Linked DNA regions of Homo sapiens: all the other regions are reported to be linked to region 2. Evidence: microRNA targets listed by miRTarBase, many of them from high-throughput screens and not tested one by one. Region 2 holds a microRNA gene; each other region holds the end of a gene's coding sequence.

Region 1 (5,154 bases), not on the chromosome of region 2:
CTTTAACAATCGTTTGTCTTTCAAAGCCAGTGGAACAAAAAATTAATCAAATAAGAATGCTATCTTTACCTATAAAGAAAATGAGAAATTTGGACAAATTGCCTAATATCGTGTTAGTCACTTATAACCATGCTGCTTCCTTCTCCTATGGCACTGAATTGTTTGCTGCATCAGGTATGAAAAGTGAGGTCAAGCTGGGTAGGAGAGTTGTATAGACAGGTGTACAACACTTTGTATAGTGAAATATGCCTCGTATGATGCTATCAGTCTAATTCTTTATCCCCTTTTGCAAAATGGGACCCAATGGGAACTTGTTATTTCTTATATAACAAGTGGCCTTACTTTCTTAAAAATAAAGTAGCACTTTCTTTAGGACAATCCTTAGAATGAAAACACCATCTTTTTTTCCCCCAGTATTCCCAATATTAAGCAAACAGAAATCCAACCTATCAAAACACAAAAGAGCATTTGTTATTTGGGGTTGTCTGGTATTTTAAGCCTAGAAGGCACTAGAAGTGTTCATTACCACAGCAGGGTCACTACATTCAGTAAGTATCAACAAACAAATTCTACATAAAAAAAGAGAGAGAGAAAAAAGCAAATTTAACATTTATTTATTTATTTTGGAGATAGCACCTTGCTCTGTCACCCAGGCTGGAACGCAGTGGTGTGAATATGGCTCACTGAAGCCCCAACCTCCTGGGCTCAAGCAATCCTCCTGCCCAGTCTCCTGAGTAGCTGGGACCATAGGTACATACCACCATGCCCAGCTCATTTTTTTCTTTTTAATTTTTTTCATAGAGATGGAGATCTCATCATGTTGCCCAGGCAGGTCTCAAACTCCTGGGCTCAAGCAATGCTCCCACCTCAGCCTCCCAAAATGCTAGGATTATAGATGTGGGCCATCACACCCTGCCTACACTTGCCTTCTTGATGTTCCTAATTAGTTCCCATTCTGATCCTATTTCACTTGGTCATTTCCACTATCTTCCAGTCACTTGGTTTTTCTGGTAGGAACTTTTTTCTATGCTAAACAGTTTTAATGATAAAAAGGATATTAAGAAATAAGGTAAGATTACTGGGAGATTTAAACTGTTACCTGATAGTGGTCCTTTTACAAACAGAACTCTACTACCCAATCATGCCAAGTTTTGGCCATTTATGAACGTTCATGTGAATTCACAGAGGGCAGTTAATCCATCTGTGTAGAAATATAAGCAATCCCTTTTCTCCTGCCTCTGAAGAAAAGGAAGAGGAGTACAAAAAGGCAGGAATAAAAGATACTGATCTACTTTTAGCTCTAATTACAAAACCGAGAACTATTTCATACCTTGTCTTAGAACAGTTAATTCATGATTGGTGATGAGACCACAGAGGTAATAAATCTGAAAGTGCTCAAGACTTGTTAGTAGCTCATTGAAGCTTTGAAGCTACAAGTCATTCTCATCTTTTGCATTCTCATAATTTAACATAAGGTGAATCCAGCACTTTTCCAAAATGCCAAAGCCATTTTGGAAAACAGCTCTTGAGGACTCAAGACTGAAGTAGGACAACACATATGAAGGGCTCTGACACATTCTGGAAGCTTTGAGTCCATTTCTACTACCTTCTAGGTTAGACAGCTTGGATGGTGAAATCTTTCCAGATTTAAATTTTAGCTTGGAGTAAACAAGCAAGCAAGCAAGCCAAAAAAACTCCTCCAATTCAATCTAAAGTGTAATTCAACTTGGTGTACATCTTCTGTACATGCTCATTCAGCACATCTTCTGGCTTCCAGTCAGATATGTCTTAATTCATGTTGAAAATCTAAAGATGAATGTCAAAACCCTGATATTTATTGTACTGGCCCAGTTCCTAACCTTTACTGAGTCAACTTAGTGTGCCAGGCAACATACTAAGTTCTGGCATCACATACAGTATAGTATTTAATCCTCAACATAACTCAATGACAAAACCGAAGCTCAGAGATGAGAACTGCTAGTCCCATTTAAGTACAGAAGAGCTCAAGGAGCAAGAGTCCAAATGAATATAGTCCATCCCAAATTAAAACAGAATCTTTCATTGCTTATTTTAAAATATAGTCCTAGGCACTGGGCTCAGTGGCTTACGCCTGTAAATCCCAGCACTTTGGGAGGCCGAGGTGGGTGCATCACAAGGTCAGGAGTTCGAGACCAGCCCGGCCAACATGGTGAAACCCCATCTCTACTAAAAATACAAAAATTAGCCAGGCATGGTGGCATGTGCCTGTAATGCCAGCTACTTGGGAGGCTCGGGCAGGAGAATTGCTTGAACCCAAGAGGCGGAGATTACAGTGAACTCAGATTGCGCCACTGCACTCCAGCCTGGGCGAAAGAGTCTCTGTCTCAAAAAAAAAAAAAAAAAAAAAAAAAAAAAAAAAAAAAAGAAAAAAAAAAGTGATGGGCACATGGTAGGTACTCAGTGAAACATACAGTGAAAAACAAAAACAGTGGGCCAAAACCCAACTGAGTTTTCTTTCAAAGCACGTGAAATGAAAAGTCCTTGTTACAGCAGAGACTATAAATTCATGCTCCAAAATGAAATCAATTTTACCCCATCACTATGAGTGCCGATGTCTTCTTGCAGGAAAAAAGAAAGAAAAAAGGAATAGTTGAAGCAATGTTGAGAAATCCAACCAGTGTACCAACGTGGATTTCTTTATACCTACGATTCAAACTGGAGCTAATCGTTTTTCTGGGCTTGTTGGTTCTATTAAGAAAATTTCTTTAGCCTTCACTTGAGTAATTTTATTTTCTATTTATTTGAGATGGAGTCTTGCTCTGTCCCCTAGGCTGGAGTGCACTGGCAAGATCTTGGCTCACTGCAACCCCCATCTCCCAGGTTCAAACAATATTCCCACCTCAGCCTCCTGAGTAGCAGGGACTACAAAAGCACGTCCCACCACACGTGGCTAATTTTTGTATTTTTAGTAGAGATGGGTTTTCACCATGTTGGCCAGGCTGGTTTCAAACTCCTGACCTCAAATGACCTGCCCACCTTGGCCTCCCCAAGTGCTGGGATTACAGACATGAGCCACCACACCTGGCCCACTTAAGTAATTTTAAATTTAAAGCCCAAGATAGAATGATATGAGGCTATGTTTTATTCAACCTCTATAGAAAACAAATAGCTTTTTATTCTATTTAGTAGTTTGAAATGACAGCCCTAACAAAATTTTCTTCATCCTGAAAATTTCCAAACTTCTTATAACTTACCCCTAATTTTGGGACTGCAGCTTAAGTGTATTAGATTAAACACCATAAAAAGCTGCAAGACGCTCTTTTAAGGGAAGAGGAAACTGGTCAGAGAAACGCCTCCAATTTTCATCGCCAACTTGATTTTTAAATCCATGAAGGATCTGTAAGAGTGAAAAACCATTAATTTATCAATAACAAGAGAAAAATTCAGATCAGCATAGCTTCTGAAATCCAACACAGCTGATTTTTTTATAAATTTTATCCATTTTAAAGTAGCAATTCTCAAACTTCGTAGGATTCTACACCATTCCCTGCTAATATGGTCTGGCTCTGTGTCCCCACCCAAATCTCATCTTGAATTGTACTCCCATAATTCCCACGTGTTGTGGGAGGGACCCAGTGGGAGATAACTGAATCATAGGGGTAGTTTTTCCTATACTCTTCTGGTGGTAGTGAATAAGTCTCATGAGATCTGACGGTTTGATAAGGGGAAACCCGTTTCACTTGATTCTCATTCTCTTTCTTGCCTGCTGCGATTTAAGACTTGTCTTTCACCTTCCACCATGACAGTGAGGCCTCCCCAACCACATGGAACTGTGAGTCGAATTAAACCTCTTTCTTTTGTAAATTACCCAGTCTTGGGCATATCTTTTTGTGTGTGTGGCGGGGACAGAGTTTCACTCTTATTGCTCATGCTGGAGTGCAACGGCATGATCTTGGCTCACTGCAACCTCCACTTCCTGGGTTCAAGCGATTCTCCTGCCTCAGCCTCCTGAGTAGCTGGGATTACAGGCATCCGCCACCACCCCTAGCTAATTTTTTGTATTTTTAGTAGAGATGGCGTTTCACCATGTTGGCCAGGCTGGTCTTGAACTCCTGACCTCAGGTGATCCACCTGCCTCGGCCTCCCAAAGTGCTGGGATTACAAGTGTGAGCCACTGAGCCCGGCCCTTGGGCATATCTTTATCAGCAGCGTGAATATGGACTAATACACGTGCCTTGCCTAAAAGTACCTCATAGCATATGCTTAAACTCTGCTTTGAGAAGTTTAGACTTTGGCAAGTGTTCCAGTAACAGATATACTCTAAGCAATCTCTGATACCATACTAACGAAAAGATAAAGTAGAGAAGTCATCCAAGCAATACAATTTTTATGTCGTATTTTTTCAAACTGCAAATACACAAGCTTTGAGTTCACGACAAACTATAGTTCACTAACTTTAATCTTGGGTGATTCAAATGTGTAACTGCATTTTATTTTTTACTGTGGTTGAGTACTGACGAGTTAATCAAAAGAGGGTATTAACAAAGCAAATAATGACATGGGCTTACTCCTGTGGCAGCCATTTAGATTTACTCTTTTTCAGATTATACTCCAAGTCTCCATTTCCATCTTGAAAAACATATACTATTTTCCTTAAATGGAATAATGGGACCACCTAAACTAGTGGTACACTTGGGAAAATACTTTCAAAGTGCATCCTCTACAGATAAGAGTCACTGCTGTATTTTAAGAAAAGATCAAGCCAACTTTGTTACCAAGAATAAAGGTTATATATGTAAACTATCAATACTGACTTGAAGAGCCTAACTTTCACAAAAAATGTAAACATAATTTAAAGTTTTCCACTAGGATATTAACAGTCTCAAGATGATGCATTATAAAGACTTATTAGTTACCTTACAGAACATGTCTCTGAGATCATCTTTTGGGTTAATCCATGATGCAACGGCATCACAAAAAAATATAAAATCCTGTAACAAGCAAGAAATACATCTTAGGTTGATATTGTATTTGTCAAACTCAGCAAAAGATATATGTAAACCTCAGAGTTTATGTCACAATAGAATCTAGCTTAAAAAAGGAAACATTTAAAAATTAACTATGATCATAAGGAATTAGAAGAGATTACCTTAATGGCTGTCCCTATTAGCCCAC
Region 2 (5,419 bases):
TGGGCGACAGAGTGAGACTCCGTCTTTAAAAAAAAAAAAAAAAAAAAAAGGCCGGGCGCGGTGGCTCATGCCTGTAATCCCAGCACTTTGGGAGGCCGAGGCGGGCGGATCAGGAGGTCAGGAGTTTGAGACCAGCCTGGCCAGCATGGTGAAACCCCATCTCTACTAAAAATACAAAACATTAGCCAGGTGTGGTGGCGTGTGCCTGTAGTCCCAGCTACTCGGGAGGCTGAGACAGGAGAATTGCTTGAACCTGGGAGGCGGAGCTAGCAGTGAGCCCAGATGGCACCACTGCACTCCAACCTAGGCAACAGAGAAAGACTCCGTCTCAAAAAAAAAATAAAGCAGGATAACAGGAAAAGCTATTCTGCGTTCCCCAGTCCTGGGTACTGTAGTTCAAATGGGAGAGCAGGTCTCCACCCAGAGCCCCAGGGCACAACCAGCTACAGGGCCCAGAGGGATGGCAGCAGCTGCTGGGTATTTGAGCTGGTCTGAAAGGGTGGAGGTTTCCAGTGATGTCACTCTCTGGCAGGATTGTGGGGGGTGGCTTACGCCAGGTGAGTCTGTCTATTGGTCCTGGTTATGGGCACTTATTACCAGGCAGTGGCGTAGGGGGTAGGGCCTGGAGTGAGGTGGGGATTTTAAAGTGAGCAGATGCCAGAGGTAGTGAGCCAACAGCAGGGCTGTGCTCTTGGCCCCCAGCAGAGCATGGTTGTATAGTATCAGCTGAGGATTGGTTCCAGGATGAACCCCAATACCCAAGTCCACAGATGCTCACCCTTACTATAAAATGGTGTAATATCGGGGCCAGGGGCCGGGTGCGGTGGCTCAACCCTGTAATCCCAGCACTTTGGGAGGCCAAGGCAGGTGGATTACGAGGTCAGGAGATTGAGACCATCCTCGCTAACACGGTGAAACCCCGTCTCTACTAAAAATACAAAAAAATTAGCCAGGCGTGGTGGCGGGCCCCTGTAGTCCCAGCTACTCTGGAGGCTGAGGCAGGAGAATGGAGTGAACCCGGAAGGCAGAGCTTGCAGTGAACCGAGATTGCGCCACTGCACTCCAGCCTGGGCGACAGAGCGAGAGACTCCATCTCAGAAAAAAAAAATATCGGGGCCAGCACAGTGGCACACACCTGTAATCCCAGCACTTTGGGAGGCCAAGATGGGTGGTTCACTTCACTCCAGGAGTTCAGCCAGAGCAACATGGCAAAACCGGGTCTCTTCAGAAATTATCTGGGCGTGGTGGCTTGCACCTGTAGTCCCAACTATTCAGGAGGTCAAAGCTGCAGTGAGCTGTTACCACTGCACTCCAGCCTGGGTGACAGAATGATGCCCTGTCTCCAAAAAAAAAAAAAAGTATAATATTTGCATATATCCTATGTAGATGTTTTACTTTTGAGACAGAGTCTCACTCTGTCACCCAGTCTGGAGTGCAGTGGCATGATCTTGGCTAACTGCAACCTCTGCCTCCCAGGTTCAAGTGATTCTCCTGCCCTGCCTCAGCCTCCCAGGTAGCTGGGGTTACAGCGGGTGTGCCACCACACCTGGCTAATTTTCTTGTAATTTCAGTAGAGATGGGGTTTCACCATGTTGGCCAGGCTGGTCTCAAACTCCTGACCTCAGGTGATTCTCCCGCCTCAGCCTCCCAAAGTGGTGGGATTACAGGCGTGAGCCACTGCGCCCGGCCTGATCCCATATATTTTAAATCATCTGTAGATTACTTATAGATTAATACAGGCCAGACATGGCACATACTTATAGTCCCAGCTACTTAGGAGGCTGAGGCAAGAGGATTGCTTAAGCCCAGGAGTTCGAGGCTGCAGTGAGCTATGATCACACCACAGCACCCCAGCCTGGGTGACAGAATGAGGCCCTTTTTTTGTGTTTTAAGAAAAAAGAAAAAGCACTAATACGGTGTAAATAATTGTTACACTGTTTTGAATTGTAGTTTTTTTCCCCTAAATATTTTTGATCCACCCTTGGTTGAGTCTGTGGATATGAAGGGCTGGCTGTATCTGGACCTGATCTCAGGGCAGGAGTGGGCTGGGAACAAGCGGTGTGTAAGAACTGTTTCTGGGCAGAAGCAGCCCACCCCACACAGACTACTGCCTGGCACTTGGCAGTTATGGAAGAACCCCCAATTCCCCCACTTGATCTTTAGAACTAGAGGAAAGAAATCACTAGAGCAGACTCAGACCAACTTGCTGATCTCTGGGTCCCAGGAACAAACCAGACTCTGCTCTGAGCTCCAGAGCTAGGCAGGACCATGTGATGGCTGAAATCTGGGTGCTTCCTGCATGTGGGCCCCGGTGCCATCACAGTGGCAGGACAGGGCAGTTCCTCCAGAGCTGTGTGACACGGAGCCAGTGAGTACCCTCTGGCACCTCAGTTTCACTCTTTAAAGGAGAGTAGCACTTGACACACCTGTTGAGTCCTCAGAGTAACCCGGCCCTCAGGTGAAGAAGGGTGGAGAGATCGAAAAGCATTTGGCACAGGGCCTGGCAGATGTGTGCTCCAGTTAATAGAAGCGTGCAAGCGTTTCTGGGGAGGCTGGTGTGTCGACTGGATTTTACGGAGCTTTTTTTGCAGGCAAGGAGGCTGGCTGGGGTGGACCAGGGACTTGCCCAAGCCAGCCTTCCCTGTGTCTGCAGAGGGGCTGGTACACATTCCAAGCAGGGGGCACCCACTGCACAGAGTGTCTGCCCTGCCCTTGTTATCCTGAGCTCTCCAGACTGAGGTGGCCCGGAGAGTGGCAATAGGTCCCTTCACTCCTGCTTCTCTGGGGCCCATGGAGATGGTCACAGCTAGGCTCCACCCCTACATAACCTCAGGTTCAATTCAACAGCAGTGCTGCTGGGATAGTAACCACTAAAGAAGTTGGCCCTGGAGATGGTGGGAGTGCCCACCCAGGGTGCAGGGCTGTTTGTCAAGGAAGAGCTAGCCGGGGGGGTGGGTGAGGAGAGGGGGCTGTCAGTTTCTGGGTGTTAGTGTGTGTTTTCAGTTTCCCTTCTTATAAAACAGTGAGAATTAGCTGTTTACACACAAGGAATTGTTTACCTGAGACCTTGATCAAGACCCTTAAATCTCCCTCTCACACTACCCCCAGCTTCCACAGCGCGGCACCTGTACCTCCGGGGTGGCGCTGGGGTTGGCTCCATGACCAAGATCTATGGGGGACGTCAGAGAAACGGCGTCATGCCCAGCCACTTCAGCCGAGGCTCCAAGAGTGTGGCCCGCCGGGTCCTCCAAGCCCTGGAGGGGCTGAAAATGGTGGAAAAGGACCAAGATGGGTAAGCAGGGTAGAGGGGGCTGCATTGATGGAGTAGCCTTGAGGCCCGGTCATCAATTCCCCAACGAATGGTCCTGCATAGTCTGCCCAGCCCCTCAGGCCCCTCCTATCAGAGGCAGGCAGGAGGGGATTCTGCAGAAAAGCAAACAGCACGGGGCCTCACCCCGACCTCTCTGGCTGACTAGCCCAGGCTCCAGGAGGGTAATTTAGCGACTATCTGCTTTCATTAGCCTGCTCGTTAACTTTTCCCAATTGATTTTTCGGGGCTTTTGATCTAAATGCTTGCACAAACAACACCCCGTCAGCTCCCAGGGGGGCTCCCACTACTGCCCCCAGCTCGTTAGAATGCACCTGACTAGGGCCCTCAGTGGGACTTGGCTGGCGGCAGGTGGCTTTTTGAGAAGCCTGGCTCACAGCCAGGAGGGAAGGGGCTGAGAACAGGACCTGTGCTCACTGGGGCCTGCATGACCCTTCCCTCCCCACAGCGGCCGCAAACTGACACCTCAGGGACAAAGAGATCTGGACAGAATCGCCGGACAGGTAAGGCCTGCGTTTGGGGTGGGGCTGGGTCCCTTAGTCGCTGCCCAAGCATTTCCAAAGCCCATACTTTGTCAGGTAGACTTATTTCCTTCTCTGGAGGGCACAGCCCAGGGTGCTGGTGGGGTCAGAGGAGGGCTGCCCAGAGACAGGAGAAAGGACAGTCCTGTCTGACTTTTCCTGTTGGTGCTGCTTAGAAATTTGGAGGCAGGCTGGCTGTGGTGTCTCACCCCTGTAATCCCAGCACTTTGGGATGCCGAGGCAGGCGAATTATCTGAGGTCAGGAGTTCAAGACCATTCTGACCAACATGGAGAAACCCTGTCTCTACTAAAAATACAAAATTAGCCGGGTGTGGTGGCACATTCCTGTAATCTCAGCTACTGGGGAGGCTGAGGCACAAAAATCACTTGAACCCGGGAGGTGGAGGCTGCGGTGAGCCAAGATCATGCCATTGCACCCCAGCCTGGGCAACAAGAGTGAAACTCCATCTCAAAAAAAAAAAAATTGGAGGGAACTCCAGCCCAGGTGCCACTGGGCATCTATCCACAGAGCACATAGCTGTACCCGTAGATGACTCCCCCTCCCCAGGTCAGCCTGCGATGTTTCCCCTTAGTCCTCATGCGTACTGAGCATCACATGGGCTGCTTGGGAGAGGTGGAGATAAGGGAGGGGGGCTGGTTCAGAACCCAGGTCTCCATTCAGATCCTGGCTGGCCAACACCCTGGGGCAGAGTGGCCACACCCCTGGTGCCACAGTCTCCTGTCTTGGCCTCCCTGTGGCCAAAATCTACCCTTGGCCACCTCAAGCATGGTAGTGAGGAGTCAGTGAGCTATAGTACAGCAGGAGCACCCAGGGCCTGGCATGAGCTCAATTCTGTATCACTGACTCAGGCCTCCTAGGAGCCTTGGAGCATTTAGTCAGTCAAGTGTCACAAAAGAATGGAAAGTGTCAGCCCTCTAGGAGTTGGGGGTGGTCTGGAAGGAGAAAGCTCTTCCAGGCAGAGTGGGGCTTGGCGCACACATCATTGCTGGTGGTTGGATGTTGGCCTTCTCACATGGCAGTGGGCGGAATTTGGACTCCACTCCGCCACTCCCTTCCTTTTTTTTTTTTTTTTTTTTTTTTTTTTTTTGAGACAGAGTCTTGCTCTGTCGCCCAGGCTGGAGTGCAGTGGTGCAATGTCAGCTCACTGCAACCTCTGCCACCTGGGTTCAAGCAATTCTCCTATCTCAGCTTCCCGAGTAGCTGGGACTACAGGCACACACCACCACACCTGGCTAGTTTTTATATTTTTAGTAGAGACAGGGTTTCACCATATTGGTCAGGCTGGTCTCGAACTCTTGACCTCAGGTGATCCACCTGCCTCGGCCTTCCAGAGTGCTGGGATTAAAGGTGTGAGCCACTGTGCCTGGCCACTCCCTTGAGACTCAGTTTCCACGTCTGTGAAATGGGGGAATACCCACAGTGAGAATTAGATGAGATAGATGCATTTGAAACCACAAATCGGGGTGCCCACCTGTGGTGGGTAGTTAGGTAGCTGTTACAAAGTGCCCCAGCAGAGACCCCCTTGACTAACTTTTATTCTTCCATCTT
Region 3 (5,419 bases), not on the chromosome of region 2:
GCGTAGTGTGAGCCATTTTGATGCCAAGTTGCTCTCCAAGTATGTCCCTGTGGCCAATCGCTATGAGGGCACTGAGGATGATTATGGTGATGACCCTTCGACCAACTCGTTTGAGAAAGAGAAGCAGGACTATGTCTATTGCCTGGAGTCATCCCTGCAGACCTACAACCCAGACTACGTCCTGATGGTAGAAGACGATGCTGTACCAGAAGAGCAGATCTTCCCAGTCTTGGAGCACCTTCTGCGGGCTCGCTTCTCTGAGCCACATCTCAGAGATGCCCTTTATCTCAAGCTGTATCACCCCGAGAGGCTCCAGCACTACATCAATCCAGAGCCCATGCGGATCCTGGAATGGGTTGGTGTAGGCATGTTGCTGGGGCCCTTACTAACCTGGATATACATGAGGTTTGCCAGCCGCCCAGGGTTTAGCTGGCCTGTAATGCTCTTCTTCTCCCTGTATAGCATGGGTCTGGTGGAGCTGGTGGGTCGGCACTATTTCCTGGAACTGCGGCGGCTGAGTCCTTCCCTGTACAGTGTGGTTCCTGCCTCTCAGTGTTGCACCCCAGCCATGCTCTTCCCGGCACCTGCGGCCCGCCGGACCCTCACCTACCTGTCCCAAGTGTACTGCCACAAGGGCTTTGGCAAGGACATGGCACTGTACTCGCTGTTGAGGGCCAAGGGAGAGAGGGCCTATGTAGTGGAGCCGAACCTCGTGAAACACATCGGGCTCTTCTCCAGTCTCCGGTACAACTTTCATCCCAGTCTCCTCTAGGGTGCCAAGAGATGCCTTTCTGAAGTTGGCCACTTCTTGAAGATTCAAATATTTATCTCTTTATTTAGACATGGTTGCCTGCAGGTATTTCACTGTTTACTGTTGTTAGAGATATAGGCACTGGGGCAGCTGAGGAACCTCAATATGTTAAGAGCCTTGGCTTTGGTAGCCTCCTGGCAGGAGCAGCAGTTTGCCACAGGTCCGGACCTCTCCCTCCACACAGCCACACTGCCTCATGCAGTCTGACCCACCCAGTGAGGGTGCATTTGAACACTGATTATATTCTCCATTTGTTTTTAAGCTCTGCTTTGTGTTAGAGCTTGTGACTGCCAAAAATTTTGTGCACAGTGATATGACTGTTTTAGGATCTTAAGGGTAGAATTTTGTGAAAGGTGAGATCCTTTGGAATTGAGTTCTTTCTCATTGGGTATGAAAATGGATGTATGTTTAGAATATATGCCCAACGAGGCAGGACCATGTGGATAGATTCCATTTGTTTCCTTGACCTGATGTAATAAAAACTGATAAAAGCCGTGCAGTGCCCGGCATCTTGGAGGCAGGTGATCTGGCTTTTCTGTTACCTGGGATTTTCTTTTCCTATATATCTGTAGTGCACTGATAATTGATATTGTTAGTGAGAACTTTAAGGCACGACAAGATCTGGAAGAGCTTGTGAACCATCAAAGTCAGATTGCTTATGTTGAGTAGTGATTTAACATTGAACATTTCTGTACTACTCTGACTCTTTGAAAATTGGACATTTCAGAATGATACAATATAGGGGAGCTCTTTACAAGTAGCATATCATTTTTCCTGACTTTCCTGGCTGACTGCTTACCTTCATTTCTTTTTCTTCTAGGTAGCATGATGTTATAGAAAAAAAAAAAAAAAAATCATGGACTGAAGTCAGAAGACCTGACCTTTTATTTCAGATCTCTGCCATGGCCTAACGACGTGACCACCTTGGGCAGGTCATATAATCACTCTGGGTCTCAATTTCTTCACCTGTAAAATGAGGACAGTAATACTTACATGTTAAAGTTGCCTTGAGGATTAAATGGCAGAATATATGTAAAACACCTAGCAAGTGCTTAGTCCATAGAAGACGCTTGGCAAACTTTTCTCTCCTATAATAAACATATACAACTCAAGCTTATTTCGGAAAAAGATATTGGTGATGTTGTTTAAAGTATGAGATAGGGCATGGAGCTGCCACCTATGTACCAGCTATTCCAGATGACCAAGCCCTGCTAGAATAAAGACTGACTTTTCATTGTGACCTCTGAAGGATGTGCAGCTCAGCTTTCACCTATCCCCACGTTCACCCAAGCCAAAAAGAAGAATTGTTCATTCAAACTGGAAATGATCTCCAGCTTGGAAATGAGACTCCTCATGAGCTTATTCTAAGATCAGAGTCTGAAAATTATTTTCTCAAAAGTTACAAATAAATGTCTTTTAACAGTACTGTCAGACTAGTGACCAACAAGTTACTTTATGAGGATGGATGATGATATTAGAGTTCAAGCAATTGTCCAGTTTGTTTCGATGCCACAGTTTGCTTTTAAATTCCCATAGTGAGCTTCCATCTTGAGACCCACTCAACACAGAAGGATTACATAAAGGTTGATCACCCACGCTCTACAGATGAACAAATTGAGACCCAGAGATGCTAAACTGCTCTGCAGGTCACAAACCTGAACAGCAGCATAGCCAAAATGGGAACGGAGCTCTTCTGACTTCAAGCCCCTGCACTTTTTTCTTAACCACATTAATTTTATGAATATCTATGTGGTCAAAGTCTCTTTTGTAAAATCTGAGTATAAGCTGAACTAGATCATGTCTCTGTAAGCTAAGATGGCAGAAACACATTGTCATGTTAGTTTGGAGGAGCAAACAGATATAAGTATGTGTTGTAATGTTATAGTGAGCTGTTATGTATCCCCCAGCAATGTCCAAAGTGATCAGAGCTACTAGATGACTTATTACAATGTTCAGATCCCACTCCTTCATTCCTCCTCTCTCAGTGACCTGTCTACCCCCAAGCTTTAGAACTGAGCTCTCTCCAACTTAGAACTCATTAGAGTTTGTTGCATTAGTGATTGGATCTCCTCATGAAAGTTTTTTGACCAATGACAGTAGAGCCCCTTTAAGCTAGCCAGGCCCAAGATAGGGAAGCACTGCTGGTTTACATTTCTGCTCTTTCTAATTCAGTTGTCTATTGCATGCAGACATCCCCTGCCCGACTTCTCCATTATGGAAGGCTAAGGCCATCCTTCCTTGTCCAGTTTCTCTACCTACACACTAACATGCCTTTTCCCCATGGAGTGAACTCTGCCAGTTGTCTTTGGACATTTTCTGCAGATGCAGGCTCAGTTCTGCTCTTTTGTTCCCACCCACTTCTAGATCTTCCTCCATTTAATCCCTTATTCTTATAAGGAGTCTAATTTTTGTGTATTGTCCTTGATTAGGGCAGCTGACAGCTTTACACCAAAGCTGAAGTCTCTCACTTAATCCTAAGCAAGGGGCTAGGGAGAACTAAGATATCCTTCCCATATCAAGGGATATAGGTTACTAGAAGGGTGGAGGTCTCTTAACAGGCTCACTCACCTTTCAGAGTTTAAATTATGGTCAGGCTTAAGAAGCTCTCTCTTGTGACTGAGTGTATTGCATAGACATGTCTGTGAAAATAAAAGCACCCATTTTGCTAAGGCTTTCTGAGAAGACTTTTATCATTCTCTGTCTTTCCTTTTCATGAATGGATTTTTCTGATGTGGCAAATAGTATGGGCTCCCTGCGCCCACACACAGTTTTGTAGTCCCAAGGGAGCCATTCAGAAGTATTGGCTGCTGCCTGCACAAGCAACCATGGCCACAGATCCCTGGGTCACAGCAATGTCAGAGCATTTATCCATCTTTTTCTGGGTAAAAAAAGTGGGGGTCACTGCTACCACCCAGATCATCTTACCTCTCACTGGTATACCCCTGGTACAATGTGGTGATCATTCCTTCACTCTTTCCTGCCTCTTGCCCTAAAAGTCTTAGAATAAGTTGCAGAGCTGCCATGGGTGGTATTCCTGTCTAGTGCTCCATTGGCCACCCCAAGAACATGCAGCAACACCTGTAGGCTGAAAGAGAAAACCCAGCCTTCCCCTGAGAGAAACACGCAGAGATCCCTCACACCCATCCTCCCCCCACTCCCAACACACACACTGAAAACAAAACCACTAACAACAACAAAGTAAAAAACAGCTGTGTGTAGTGATGGAAAGACTTCCTCTTAGCACTTGCCATTCCCTCTGCTTGGAATGCATGTAAAAAACTTTTTTATAGGGGCTAAAATTGTACACTATAACCAATTCTCAGTCCCTAGACCCCATTCTTTGTTCCTCTTCTTCCTGATTTTCTTCCCTAGTCCATTTCTTTTTGTCCAGTATTCCTTTTGTTCATAGGCAGTTCCACTGTGAGTCCTGTACTCTTTCTCATTCATTCATGGCTCACTGTGTGTCATGTTCTATTCTAGGTGTTGGGGATATAGCAGTGAACGAAACAGAAGACCCCTGACACTGAGGAGCTCATGTTCTATGGGGAAGGTGAAGTGGAAAAAAACTCAAAAGAATAAATAAGGGAATTTCAAGAGGTTTGAAGGAAATCTAACTAGGTAATGTGATTGCGGGACCTAGGGATAGGGAAGGGCATAGACTGCTTTAGATAGGATGGGAAATCTCTTAGGGGAGATTAAAATTGAACTAAGACCTGAATTACATGGAAAAATTTAGTCAAAGGAAAAGCATTCCAGAGAGAGAGCATGGCAGTGCAAAGCCTTGCAGAAAGAACCAGTGTAGAAAGTCCAAGGATGAAAGAAAGCCAGTGTAGCTAGAGCCTGAAGAATGAGGATGGGAGTGGAAGATGTGAAGGTAAGTTTGCAGGGGCCAGATCATATCAGGCCTGGAAGATGATATAGCTGTTTAAAGTTTATTCTAAATGCAATGAGAAGCCAGCTCCTAGCAAGATAATAAATTGCTTTTCCAGAACGTTAACTGTCCATTATTTAGTTCCTTTGCATTCTCCATAGGCTGGTCTTATAAAGGTTCTGTGACAGTAGGGAATCCATTAAAGATCTATTACATAAGGGAATGTGGGACATGCAAAAGCAGAAGACAAATGTAGAAACCCTCTGCTTCACTTGGCATTTCTGTCCTTCATCTTTCTGATATTTTAAAGCTACTGTGTTCCTACATACATATGCTATCTGTTCCTTCATTCTTTTTGATAAATTCATCATTTGCCTTTACATTTTCATCGTTTTTACCCCCAAATGGTTAATGTAGGTGTTTTTTTTTTTTTTGGAATCATTTTATTCTTTCGTATTTCTGTGTCAGTCGCTAGGAGAAAGACCAGGAAAATCTGTTAAACTCTAAACCAAAAATTCCCATTCACTGCAGAGTGATGATTCGCAACACTGCTGCAATTCAGGTAGTGGGGTGTCCTGAAGTGACAACACATCACCACTGCAGTCCTAATAAATTAAGTCTTTTTGTTTTGTTTTGTTTTGTTTTTTGGTCTGCTAGCTTTAGTAAATTTCCAACCATCTTTGACATAGTGCCAAAGATTTTCCAAATAGTATCCAACCTAGAAAACAGTTTCAGTT
Region 4 (5,419 bases), not on the chromosome of region 2:
GCCAGTTTAAACCTGTTTTATTAGGTTGTCCCCAAACTTCTTAATGTCTCAAGGTCTGTTAGGTGCTTTCTGTTTTCTTTTCTGGGTTTCTTTTTTCTTTCCCTTTCTCCTTTCCCCTTTCCTTTTCCTCCTTCCTCTTCCCCTTTCCCTTTTCCCTTTCCTCTTCCCCTTCCCCCTTTCCCCTTTTTCCTCTTTCCCCTCTTTGCCTTTCCCTTTTTTTTTTTTCTTTCCCTTTCCCTTTTGACAAAGTGCCCAGGCTGGATGCAATCACAGCTCACTGCGACCTGCACCTCCTGGGCTGCAGCAATCCTCCCACCTTAGCCTCTGGAGTAGCTGGGATTACAGGCGCAGACCACCACACCTGGCTAATTTTTGTATTTTTTGTAGAGCTGGGGTTTCAACCGTGTTGCCCAGGTTGGTCTCAAACTCCTGAGCTCAAGCGATCTCACCCGCCTTGGCCTCCCAAAGTGCTGGGATTACAGGCGTGAGCCTGGCCTGCTTTCTGTTTTCAAGCCTTACTAAATATAATAAATAGGGTAGGGTTCTGTCTCATACATATCTGTATTCCTGATAAGCTAGCGTAGCATAGTTTCTGGCTCTTGGTAGGTACTCAGTAAATATTCATGGAATAAATAAGAAAGAAGGATTTGGAGTATTAGAATTAATTGTGACATAAGTTAACTTACAAGCCTCCAAATTATCAGGTAGGCCTAGGATTGATTGGTCATTTATATGGAGATTTTTTTTTTTAACTTCATTTCTGAAGAAAAGATTTGATGCTGCTGAAATGTCAGAATTAAGAGTATAATTTTGGGCCTGAAACTGAAGCTCTTTTCTAAGAATTGACTGTCCAGTGCAAAAATTAAACTCACATTCATTCGAAGAATCATTGAAGCTTTAGAATTTTATACATGAGGATACCAGCTTTTATAGTTACTCAATTGGTCAGTAGCTACACAAATCATCTAATTCTGAACTATCTGTGTGTGTGTGTGTGTGTGTGTGTGTGTGTGTGTGTGTGTATATGTATATGTATATACACACACACATACAGGTTTTTCTGCATGTACGTGATCCTCTAAAATAATGGTTGATGTTTATTAAGCTTTTCTCCCCCTCCCCTAAAGTAGAGTCGTGATCTATTTGACATGATTATTTAGGTACAAACTAGACTATTTAAAATAAACTGCTAATGGACTTTTAAATATGTTGGATAAGTTTCAAGAGGTGGGCAGTGTTTTTAAAGCTCAGTAGATCAGCATATGTTATAAAAAAGCAATTAAAAAATTTTAAAAGTCATGTGTGGCAGGGACTGGCTTCCTTTAGAGTTGGATTAATTTTTTTTTTCTTTAATAGCTACAGAATCCAGAAGTCAGATTTCAGCAACAACTGGAACAACTCAGTGCAATGGGATTTTTGAACCGTGAAGCAAACTTGCAAGCTCTAATAGCAACAGGAGGTGATATCAATGCAGCTATTGAAAGGTTACTGGGCTCCCAGCCATCATAGCAGCATTTCTGTATCTTGAAAAAATGTAATTTATTTTTGATAACGGCTCTTAAACTTTAAAATACCTGCTTTATTTCATTTTGACTCTTGGAATTCTGTGCTGTTATAAACAAACCCAATATGATGCATTTTAAGGTGGAGTACAGTAAGATGTGTGGGTTTTTCTGTATTTTTCTTTTCTGGAACAGTGGGAATTAAGGCTACTGCATGCATCACTTCTGCATTTATTGTAATTTTTTAAAAACATCACCTTTTATAGTTGGGTGACCAGATTTTGTCCTGCATCTGTCCAGTTTATTTGCTTTTTAAACATTAGCCTATGGTAGTAATTTATGTAGAATAAAAGCATTAAAAAGAAGCAAATCATTTGCACTCTATAATTTGTGGTACAGTATTGCTTATTGTGACTTTGGCATGCATTTTTGCAAACAATGCTGTAAGATTTATACTACTGATAATTTTGTTTTATTTGTATACAATATAGAGTATGCACATTTGGGACTGCATTTCTGGAAACATACTGCAATAGGCTCTCTGAGCAAAACACCTGTAACTAAAAAAGTGAAGATAAGAAAATACTCTTAAAGCTGAGTATTTCCTAATTGTATAGAATCTTACAGCATCTTTGACAAACATCTCCCAGCAAAAGTGCCGGTTAGTCAGGTTTGTTGAAAATACAGTAGAAAAGCTGATTCTGGTTATCTCTTTAAGGACAATTAATTGTACAGACACATAATGTAACATTGTCTCAACATTCATTCACAGATTGACTGTAAATTACCTTAATCTTTGTGCAGACTGAAGGAACACTGTAGTATACCCCAAAGTGCATTTGCCTAGGACTTCTCAGCTTCTCCCATAGGTAGTTTAACAGGCATTAAAATTTGTAATTGAAATGTTGCTTTCACTGAAAAAGTGTCTTGATGTTTCAGTTATTTTTAATCGCCATAAAAAAATAGAACTATCTTTTGGGTTTATCTGTTTTCTCATGCACAGGCAATACACAAATTTAAAATGAGTTGTGAGCCAATTGTTTCTGAAGTGTTTTGGTAGTTCTATTAAGAAATAGTTAAATATTGTGCTTTTCAGAGCCTCAGAGAAAGGGGGACGGGGTGGGGGGGTGGGGCAGCGGAATCTGTCCTGGATGGGGCCAGCTTAAATAATACTGGCAACCAAGATTCTGTTAGGATTTCTGTGCATATAGTGTAGTAAAGAAGTATCATTCAGGGGTGAAAAACAAAGAGCCGTTTTAATGATGTTGAGTACATTTGGCTGTTTTATAGCCTTTTTCTTCCCTCCCCCAAAGAATTCTGTTTGCCTAACTCCCAAACTGTTGGGGTGGTACATTCCTTTAGGACCAATTAAAACATAATTGAGGGTCAGTGATACATTTGGCTGACTCTGGTTCAGTATTCTCTTAGGTGATTATATTCTCTCATGTACAGTTACAGGAAATTAAAATGTTAAAGTAACCTAAAATGAATTCAGACCAATAAAATCAAGGGAAATACAAGTTGATTGCATTACTTCTGTATGTTGCTTGCTATTAAAAAGGTTAAGAGGCCAGGTTACCCACCAGTCCTTGCACTGTTCTGACACTTTCCCCAGGAGGAAAACAAGTACAAAGGTTACGGTGGAGGCATAAGTAGAAGAGATTGTTAAGAAGGGTATTCATGTGTCTTTGCTCTTTCTGCTTTATGCCTCAGTTTGGTTTAAAAACTTCTGTACTGGCAAATGGTGGTATTCAGTGTGGGATAGTGTCATAACTAATTTGACAATTTATTAATCATAAAATAACAATAAATCTCTAGCTTTTACACTTGATTTGTCTTGCCTCTTTTGTAGAAAGAAAAAAAGTCTTTAACTTTTGCTAACCATGTGTTTTAAAGGCTATTGGAGTTGATTTACCCCAGATTTTGTCACATTTTACATTCTTTATTTTTCAGGTTTTCCAATTAAAACGTCACAGTCTTTTGTGGTGTGATAAAAAGATAGCACACTGGGAAGGTAGGTGACTTGAGCTCCACTTTTGATCTTGGTACTTGACTAGTTATGTGACATTGAGGCGTCATGGTTTCTTTATTATACATGTGGTGGTGAGGCTTATAGGTGTGCTGGACTGGGCGATAAGCTCTGAAGTACCTTTAAGCTACTGCAGTGGTATGGTTTTTGTTTTTAATATGTTTATTTAGGTCTAAGTCTAAAGATAAATATCTACATCTTAAGGGGTTCAAAATACTTAAAATTCTTATCAGCACTTAAAGGATGTTTAAAATACTGTAGGCTTAAATTGTTCTCATATTGAGTGATAATATTTAGTACAAATTGAATAAAGAATGGGGTAGTGAAAATAGCATTTCAGGATTTTATTTCCCAGTTATAATATTTGCGATATCCTAAACAAAGTCTAGCAAATATTGAAAAATCAGATAAATGACACCTGGCCTCTGTGTGTATTTAGAATCTTGAGTTTCAGACTTGGTTTAAATATAATAATGAAAAGAGTCTTTTATTCTTACTATGTTAATTTAATAGGCATATATCACAACAAAATATAACAATGGATAACAATATGCTAGTGACAAAAGTGAAGCTAAGCCGTGTGTGCAATGACATACACATGATTAACAAAAAAAAATGACTCTGTGATTAATGCAGGGAAATACTGCATATTGTACTTCTTCTCATAGAGATTAATATTATATTACAATTAACAGGAAGTCTTGCATGAAAGAAGTCTATTTAAAGTTTTATCAGCTTTTTCCAGTCTCACTAGACCATCTTTTAACTATTCTTTAAGGTGATGCTGTATACAATGAACACCCTTCCTATACTTCGTGTATCTACCCTTCTCTGGTGTCGCACATGGTATTTATCTACTTTGGCTCCTATAAACCCTACCATTCTTTCTGGGCTCAGTTCTGAAGGCGTCCTAAACTTTGCTGATCCAGTGTTTGGGAAACTCTTAACTGTTCATACTTAGTCTTTACTGTCAATTGCTGCATTTTGCTCCCCCCATTCACCTTGTAGCATTTTGTTTTGTTTTTTATTTTTCTGCTCTAAAATTGTCTTGGCAATTACCTAAGTAACATCAGTTGTTCCTCTTCAACTTCTCTGTATCTTTTCTCATAGGCAACTATTATGTCAGAAAGTCAAATTATTGAACATCTACTGAGTGCCAGGTTCTTTTCCAGTTGCTCAGAGTATAGCAGCAAATAAAACAAGATTGTGTCCACATGGGGTTTACATAGTAGAATGTAGGGAGATAGGAAAACATACAGATTGCCTGCCAGGTAATCAGTGCTTTGGTGAAAAATGCTGCATAGTGGGGAGACCAGGTCAGGAAGGTGGCGTTCTTATTTTATATAAGGTTGTCAGAGAAAGCCTCAGCTCATTGAGGAGGTGACATTTGAACAGAGACTTGAGTATCTGGAGGGGTGAACAACTTTTCCAGGAAGAAGGACAACTAATTAAAAGGCCCTGAAATAGTGTCCTTGAGTGTATGTCAACCTAAAGGGAAGAAGCTGAGGCACAAAATATAATTTCGAAAGAGTTTACTTGAGCCAAAGTGAGAACAGCTGCCAGGGACCCATTTCAGGTTGCCTTGGGGAGTACTCTGTTTGGTACAAGCAGGTTTTTAAAGGCAAAGGGGAACAAGGAGTGGGCTGATAAAAGTTTTGACAGGTATTCTCATTGGTTTCCAGAGATAATATTGATTAGCCATTGGCTGTACGCTGTTGAACATAGGGTAAAAGTTATGATGTCTACTATATGACATCTTAATGGCTACTTGGTGTCATTCCAGAGCCCACATAGTCATTTGCTTCAAGAGGTAATTATTTAGCTCAAGAGGGAATGAGACGTGACTGATGTCACATTTTAAATGCCTCTCTGAGCCTGATAATTTAAA

Evidence for each region. The annotated mature microRNA hsa-miR-6797-3p reads UGCAUGACCCUUCCCUCCCCAC and lies in region 2 at 3,753-3,774, shown strand. An mRNA with a match to its seed (bases 2 to 7 or 8) in the 3' UTR can be bound and repressed. Matches are read on the target gene's strand: a 7mer-m8 pairs with bases 2 to 8, a 7mer-A1 pairs with bases 2 to 7 and ends in A, and an 8mer does both.
Region 1: the mRNA of TNPO1 is a reported target of hsa-miR-6797-3p. The part of its 3' UTR that is shown has no 7-base or 8-base seed match.
Region 3: miRTarBase lists PGAP4 as a target of hsa-miR-6797-3p. Seed matches in the 3' UTR shown: 7mer-A1 at 1,006-1,012.
Region 4: the mRNA of UBQLN1 is a reported target of hsa-miR-6797-3p. Seed matches in the 3' UTR shown: 7mer-A1 at 2,496-2,502.

The regions. Positions count from the first base shown.
Region 1 is chr5:72,903,525-72,908,678 of GRCh38, reverse strand. It overlaps TNPO1 (transportin 1), which reads right to left. Exons shown (of 25, transcript NM_002270.4): 23 at 4,896-4,970; 24 at 3,234-3,376. The coding sequence ends at 3,269. Among named protein-coding and RNA genes, the nearest start is that of MIR4804, 28 kb to the right of the region's middle.
Region 2 is chr19:41,865,923-41,871,341 of GRCh38, forward strand. It overlaps MIR6797 (microRNA 6797), which reads left to right and starts at 3,705; the gene lies at 3,705-3,776. It overlaps RPS19 (ribosomal protein S19), which reads left to right. Exons shown (of 6, transcript NM_001022.4): 4 at 3,109-3,292; 5 at 3,777-3,831. RefSeq lists a silencer at 521-580 and an enhancer at 3,553-4,111.
Region 3 is chr9:101,471,234-101,476,652 of GRCh38, reverse strand. PGAP4 (post-GPI attachment to proteins GalNAc transferase 4) reads left to right here. Exons shown (of 2, transcript NM_032342.3): 2 at 1-3,483. The coding sequence ends at 772. The region is part of intron 1 of TMEM246-AS1 (TMEM246 antisense RNA 1); the gene reads right to left. Among named protein-coding and RNA genes, the nearest start is that of TMEM246-AS1, 5.5 kb to the right of the region's middle.
Region 4 is chr9:83,657,877-83,663,295 of GRCh38, reverse strand. UBQLN1 (ubiquilin 1) reads left to right here. Exons shown (of 11, transcript NM_013438.5): 11 at 1,357-3,328. The coding sequence ends at 1,509. Among named protein-coding and RNA genes, the nearest start is that of IDNK, 37 kb to the right of the region's middle.